Linked DNA regions of Homo sapiens. The protein of the gene in region 1 purifies or fractionates together with the protein of each later gene. This does not show direct contact. Each region holds a gene or a part of one and is shown on either strand. Other genes may lie near its edges.

Evidence for each region.
Region 2: the proteins of PAX2 (region 1) and NFIB purify together in Homo sapiens (co-immunoprecipitation; one large-scale study listed by IntAct). This does not show direct contact.

What each region holds. Positions count from the first base shown.
Region 1 is NC_000010.11:100,751,916-100,755,738, reverse strand, and holds part of PAX2 (paired box protein Pax-2), read right to left. Parts: intron 1-3,823. UniProt on the Homo sapiens protein: Transcription factor that may have a role in kidney cell differentiation. Has a critical role in the development of the urogenital tract, the eyes, and the CNS.
Region 2 is NC_000009.12:14,150,132-14,153,954, forward strand, and holds part of NFIB (nuclear factor 1 B-type), read right to left. Parts: intron 135-3,823; coding exon 14-134; intron 1-13.

The DNA.
Region 1 (3,823 bases):
GATTGGTTTTCATGCAGACAGATGGGCCCTTCCTGGGCTCCCATCGAAATCTCTGGCTGTATGGGCTGATTGTTGCCTCTCAGGGTGTAGGATTGCACTGGAGACCACCCTCCACGCAGCCTCCTTTGCCCAGGCCATGAACGGTAATAAATGGAGGCAGCCTGAGCGATAATAAAAGCAATTGAGTAGGTTACCTGTGCAGACACAAGATTTATGCCTCTTCATATTTGATGTGATTGTTTTATTGAGTTCTCAGAACAGTTGGGACACTATTTATTTATTCATTTTGGGTTTTCCCTCTCTTTTCTTCTTTGCGTCACCTTCTGAAATGCACCTGGAGCTGTTGTCAGGCCCAGTGCCTCCTGTCTGCCTCTTCTCGAGAGTTGCCAGCTGAGGTAGGAAGGCAGGGCAAGCAGCAATTGCTCTCACCAGAAACCCCTTTTGTAGCCTGAACACCCACAGAACCAGCCAACAGGGAGACAGTCAGACCAACAGGACTGTGGGCCAGGAAGCCCAGGCTAAAACAACTACAAAAACAAAAAGAGGCTTTTCAGGAGGACAACTCCAGCTCATTTTAAGGAATGAGAATTTCAACCATCATGCCTGTTTCAAATGTTATTCCAATGATGGGTAACCTCACAGTAGGGGACTGTCTCTGGGAAAGGACAGGTGAGCGAGGCTTCTCTGACAGAAATTGGCATGTTGGTCTGCTATTTGTGGGCCCAATCTGCTAGGCTCAGGCCACAGAAGGTGAGTTCCCTGTCCTTGTTTCTGCCATTCCTCTGTGGATAGAAGTCTTTTTCTGAACTCTCCAACTTGCCCTGTCTCTTTGCCATGAGACCAACAGCCCTGACCACCAAACAGCTACAAAGATATGGAGATGTGGTAGGCAGTACCACCCCTCTGGCCAAGCTTCATGCCAAGCCAGGTCCAAGAGTAGAATAGGCAATGTTCTGGAACCTGAGTTTCAGAGAGGGAGAAACAGACCCTAGCCCGGAACATATCTTCAACATTCACGGGGCTAGGATTAATAGCTCCCAGCTTATTTGGAAAGGTCTTTGAACGAACAACTAGTAGACCATTGTCACCCCACTGCCTGACCCAAGGGGAACAATGACCTGAGAATGACTCAAAGACCTGAGAATGACAGAAGAGGGACACCCAAATGATACAGGATGGAATTCCTTAACACAGCCCTGGGTTGCCACTGCTAGGAGAATGAATGTACTCACCTAGAGCCTAACAGGCTAAGAGAGAGTGTGGATAGTGGGAGATCCGTGAGAAGTTGATTCTGCCAGGGTCCACTCCAAAGATCTAGGGGCAGAGAGTGCCCTGACTCCAAAGAGTGTTAGGCAAGCTAAAAAAGTTAGAAGGTGACACCCTTATTGTCAGCTCTTCCCAAAAGAGCACCCTCGGGGGATTGTCAGTAACCCCAGACTCTATTTGGGGTCTGTGCCTGTTCTTTCAAAGGAGGTGTATTCTCTGCCCAGAGTAACAGCCAAACCAGAAGATTTTGGCATATAATCAGGAAAATCCCTCCTGCTTAGACAATTGCTCAGCTATGTAACTAGACGACTTTTTCCTTTTTCAGTAGCATGGATCTCCCTCCACCTCTCCCCTCTCCAGGCCATGTCCCACACCAGGTTTCAATCTAAAGTCCCCTGTTTATAAACACCTGCCCTTTACAGCAGCGGTGTACAAACCAAAAAGCTGGCAACTCCATGCTCAGCCATTGGTAACCCAATGTTTAGAAAGATTCAGATAAATTCCACATGCTAAGGAGCCCAGTCAAGCCTTGGGATTTTTGAACGTGGTTTGTGGCAGTGGGGAGGCCTTCCTGACCCAGTCCTCTGGTTCAGAGAGGCATTTCTGAGGATTTGCTAGTGGAGAATACAGGCTGGATGGCCAGGCCTTTATCACAACAGAATCAGAGAATGCCAAAACCATTTTTAAAGAGTGAAAAAAGCAATTTAGTTTATAACCATAACAGCATATTTCAAGTGTGGCGACAGCATCTGTTTTGGGAAGGAGAAGATGAAAAACCACTAGCTCAGGTGGGTGAGCATGTGTGGACTTCTTTTCTTGCCAACCACCAGCTCATGCACAACCTTACTCATAACTGTTATAAAGTACCCAACACAAGTGGGCAGGTCACTACCAACAAAGCTCTAAACTCAAGAACCACCCGTTCCCCGGTGCACCACACTTTGTGCACACAGGAAAATCTCCGGGCTCTTCCTACAGTGAGTGAGAATTCCCAGAACTGATAAAAGGCAAAGTTTCTGATATAACCAGCACTAGCAGAAACATCCTGTTTTTATCAGGCTTTTGGGTGAAACAATACATCTCAGATAAACCTTCCCTCTTCAGAGCAAAAAGCACCTACAGGGATGAAGATGAGAGCGTGGTTCCCCAGGTGGATTTCTCCAGCCCCAACTCAGCAGCACACAGGGAAGCCCCCAGAATTCTTTCCAAAATATGAACCATGAGAGGATTCTGGACAAAAGCAAAATTGGGAATAGTTTTCCTGCTCCTTGTAGACAAAGCCAGCCATGAAGCCTAACTACGGACCCAGGGTAGGCTGCCCGTGTTGTTGGTGGCTTACCTGTTCCTCTCCTCCTACTCCCTCTCCATCTCCAGCAACATCTGCCCACAGATGGCTATTTCTCCACACCCAAAGGAAGCCTGTGTGCCCCTCAGGTGATAGGGCTCTGTGCTGGGCAGGTTCTGCAGCTGTCACAGCTGTCAAGCTGAGGCTACTCTTTCCCCACCCTCATCTCACTTGTGGCTCACTTGTCTACTTTGTCCTAATTCTGGTGGGTGCACCTCAAGACCTCTGGAGCTTGATCCTAGGGTCACCTGGCCCTTGTTCTCCATGGCTTTTCAGGATAGAAGTATTTCCAAACTTATGCCTAAGCCAGCTTCCAAAATCATCTCAGCCAATGAGGAGTGCATGTTGTTGAGGGGAGGGGCAGGGGGTGTTGGACGGGGCCACCACACCTGACTTGTTGCGCCACTCCTCTACCCCATTCAAGAGAAACAAATTACCTAAATCCTACATGACTTGGGTTTCTCCAAAGGCTTGAAAATTCTGTTACTGACAACAAGCATTTCTCTTAAATGTTCTGCAGAAGACCACTACCCAGTCCCAGCAACACTGCACACAGCAGGGCCACTCTTGGCCCTTGGCTGTTCTTCTCTTGAGATCTCAGTTCCAACTCATGCCCAGGACCAGCAATCAGCCAAGAGACTGAGTCTCTACATGGCTCATAAAACAATGCTTTGTCCCCTTCCCCTCCCGAAGTGCCACTCTTGCCTCAGCCCAAAGCTGCCCCAGCCTCCTCTCCTGGCTTTTAAAGCAAAGGGCTTATTCCTCTCCCAAACCACCCAGCGTCTTTCTCCAGCTCCTTTGGAAGGTATCTGAATGTCAAATCGCTATGCTTTCAATACCTGGCTGAGCCAGGCCGAGGGAGCTGGAGGGTTTTCGGAGGGTGTATAATTAGCTGATCAGTATTATGTTACCCTGTTCATAACTGAATAACCATTTTAATACAGATGGCACACACTGGGATAATTTCTGGGGTCGCCTCGCAGTACATTACAGCACGAGTGTGGCAGAGGGAATCTTCTTTAGCCAAGGTACATTCTACCAGCTAATTTTACCTGCTGTTTTCAGGATGATTTGGGATAATTCCATATCATTTGCAAAATATTTAAAAAATCCTTTATATGTGATGCCAATTTCAGAATAAGGCACCATGTGAATTATTAGTTGCCCTGATAATGAGCTTATGAAGAATGCAAAAAATAACAAAGGTATGAA
Region 2 (3,823 bases), on another chromosome or scaffold:
CTTCTTTCAGTACCTGCTTGGTGGAGAAGACAGAGACCTCTGAAGATTGACCCCCGAGTTCATGTCATGATAGTATGGTTGGCTTGGGATTTCTCCAATTGGGAAGTTGACTCCAGTTCCCTGGGTTATGGGCGCTGAGGAATAAGACAAAGAAGCACTGGGAATGACATTCGTATTTCTGACCTCTATTCAAATGTAATAATCGAGAATCTTTCATGCCTCTGGTCAAAGATAGAGAGAACTTTCTTCACCTTAAGCCTCTAATACCCACCATACAACCTGGGTAGGACCTGAAAACTTGCTCACCTTAGCAACGTTCAAGCTTGGAAATTTGAGGCAATCAGATTATAATCACTGGTTACCAATTTCCCGAATCCTATTCCTCAACCTTCTTTACTCACTCCTTTATATTAGTTGACATTACATCTGTCACTCTGCTAGTTAAAAATGCCTTGGAGGAAACAGAATATACGAGTCCTATCACTCAGCAACACCAAACAAGCTGCTTTGCACTACCTAGGCTCTCGAAAACCAAATCATTGTTAAATAAATAAACAGAGAACCGTTTCACAAAAAAAAGCAAAAATCATTATTCACAGCCTCCCAGTTAGGATATGATAATAATTATTAATATCATGACTTCTAATCCACTCAAATATTAATGTTGATATTAATGTTGATAATATAGAATAATAATTTTTGGTTTGTAACACAAAGGATAAATGCTTCAGGTGATGGATACCCCATTTACCCTGATGTGATTATTATGCATTGTATGTCTTTATCAAAATATCTCATGATATTTTGTATAATTACATCTGTTCACATTTTTTAAATTTAATTTTAGATATCATGAACAAAGCTGTGAGGCAGCATATTGTGTTAGAATCAGCAGAGTCTTGAGAGATAAATAGCCTTTTAGTTTAAACTCCCTCTGTATTATAAGTTATGTGCCCTAGTTTCCTAACTGTAAAATGGGAGTAATAATAACCGGACACATAGGATTATTTTGAGGATGAAATGAAATAGGTAGTGATAAGAGCCTAGAATCATGCCTAGTGTATAACACGTGCTCAACCATTGTGAGTTCCCTTCCTTCTTTGCTTTCTCCTCCAAACTTCTTCCCTGGTAGACTGGAATGGTTAGCAAAGATGAACAGTTCAAAAACGTGTTAAAAGCAGAGGAAGAGGTATAAATGAACCTGTTCGCTGAAAATTTGTTCATTCAACAAATTACTGACTGTGTCCACTGCTGGCAGGTGTTGGCTGCAATGTGTACAAAATAGTCTCATATATTGCCCTTAATAAAAATATTGGGCAACAAGCTGGGTAAGTAAAACATTCATGCGAAACACATAAATACCAAAATAGATGAAAATGAAACTGTCCAAATTAATGACATGATCCAAAACTGCTGTAGAATTTCAAGGGAAAAAGAATCCAATACCAGCTTGAATTGTCCAAGAAGTCTGCGAAAAGCCATAGCTGGCACTGGACTCTGGAGAATGAGTAAGAGATTAGAGGGAGGTCATTCTAAACAGGGACTGCTGCAGAAGCAAAATCATAGGTAGAGATAATGTGCAAAGTGGAGACCAGGCAGGTTGGTGTCAAAGAACTCCTTAAGAATAGTTTCCATTTCTTTACCTGTCTTAATCAGCCCTTCAAAAGCTCACACGAAATTGTACTCTGGGGCTTTGCAACAAAATTCTAGAGCCCCTGAGATGCACTCTAAGCATACGTGGTCTACTTAAACTCCTCCTCTCTCCCATCTGCCTCAAGTTGAGTATAAAATTCCAAAGGGATTGCAGATTTTTATGGAAGTTTTCTTACCCCTCATTTTTAATGAATATTCTAAATGTGTTCACTACCCTTTGAATTGTATTTTAATATTAGGCAGGCTAAGATTAACTTAAAATATTTTTAAGAAAGTATGATTAGGAGGTACAAGCTTTATCACAGAGAAGTAACCACGGAATACACAATGAACATCTCCCTTTCTGGACTAAAAATTAAATACATCAGTATATACATGACTAGTAACAGCTCCAAACTTCTGGATTATCTATCAGCCTTCTGATAGATTGTTCATGTTATATAATACACTGTAACATCCTTTACACAGAAAATACTTGTATCCAATGAGTAACTAAGTGCCTGATGGCTTGAATTATTTGGACAGCTAAAATGTAGCTATGTCTGTTGTGGCTTGAGGCACACCAAAGGTTAAAAAAATGTGAGGTAAGAAATCCCACAGTAACCGCATGTTTTATAATTTATTATTAGAACCATGTTCTATATGACACTGGAAGTGGGGTACATGCTAGAAGGAGTATTTCAGGGGCTCAAGTGAAGTAAACAATCTGTCTGGCTTCCTATCACAGTAATGGATACAATTCATAGACCTGAGTTATTAACAGGAAACTTAGAGGTTCCACCTTACATAAACTATTTTCAATTTATTAAGCTCATGCAATATTTAGGCAAAGATTTATAGTTTCTATTGAATACATATGGCTCCATAGTTAACATAATTTGCTTACCCATAAATAAACTAGATGTAATTTGTAGTAAATGATAATTTTAAAATCTTCAGAAATTGTTTTTTTCTAAATTTTGTTCCAGAAAGATTATTCCGCAGTGTCAAGACAGCAATAAAAACGACAAATATAGCATGTTCTCACTCATACATGGGAGCTTAAAAAGTTGATCTCATCGAAGGGGTTGTCAGAGGTGGGGGAGGGTGGGGAGGTGAGGAGATGAAGAGAGATTGGTTAATGGGTAAAAACATACAGTTATAATAGACAGAAAGAATAATTTCCAGTATTTGATAGCACAGCAGGGTGGCTACAGTTAACAACAATATATTACATATTTTAAAATAGCAAAAAAAGAAGATTTGAAACATTCCCAACATGAAGAAATGATAAATGTTTGAGATGACAGATATCCTAAATAGCCTGATTTAATCATTATACACTGTATGCATGGATCCAGAGATCACATGGATTCCATAAATATGTACACATATTATGTTTTAATTTTGTAAAGATAGCAATAAAATAATTTGTCTACGGATTTATGCATGAGCACTGTAAAAATTTAGTATGCATTCTGACACTAAATGGGAGATACAGAAAGGAAAGTAGATTAACAAACACGGCCAAAGTACTAAAACAACACACATGGAAATTATTTAATGACAGAGTGTGTGGGAACAGCAAGTCTCAGTCAGATATTCCTGCTTAAGAGCCTCTGGAAGAACTTACATCAGACGCAAAGATCAGTGTTAGCGCCTCTCCCAGGGAGCTACAAGAAGGCTGAAAGCTGCAAATCATGTTTAAGAGGATGCCGATATCCTCTTAGAAATGAAGCACCAAAGAACCTCAGATTCTAAGGGTTAGAGGCCAACCTTTAATCTCCCTTATTGTTCTCCTCACTCCAAAAGCTGATCCTAAATCAACTTTTAAGATGGAGATAATATCATTCAAAAGAGAGATCACTATCCTAATGCTGAATGGCTTCATTAGCTAAAGTCAACATACACATCAGTGGGTCTTATGATTGTAAAACCCTAGAGGACTGAAAGCACTAGCATACTGTAAACCCTCAAGAAGTCAGAATTTGTGATACACACATAGTGTTGTGCTGAAGTTTATGTTTACTTAGCAAACCCCTATTTCATAAATAATGAAGTTTAATTGTGTAAACAAAGATTATGATGCGGATATATTAAAACACTTAGGAGGAGAACTTATCAGGCCTTTCAGAGACACCTATTTACATATGGAGGAGAAAATAAATGTTTGCTGAATAAATTACGTAAT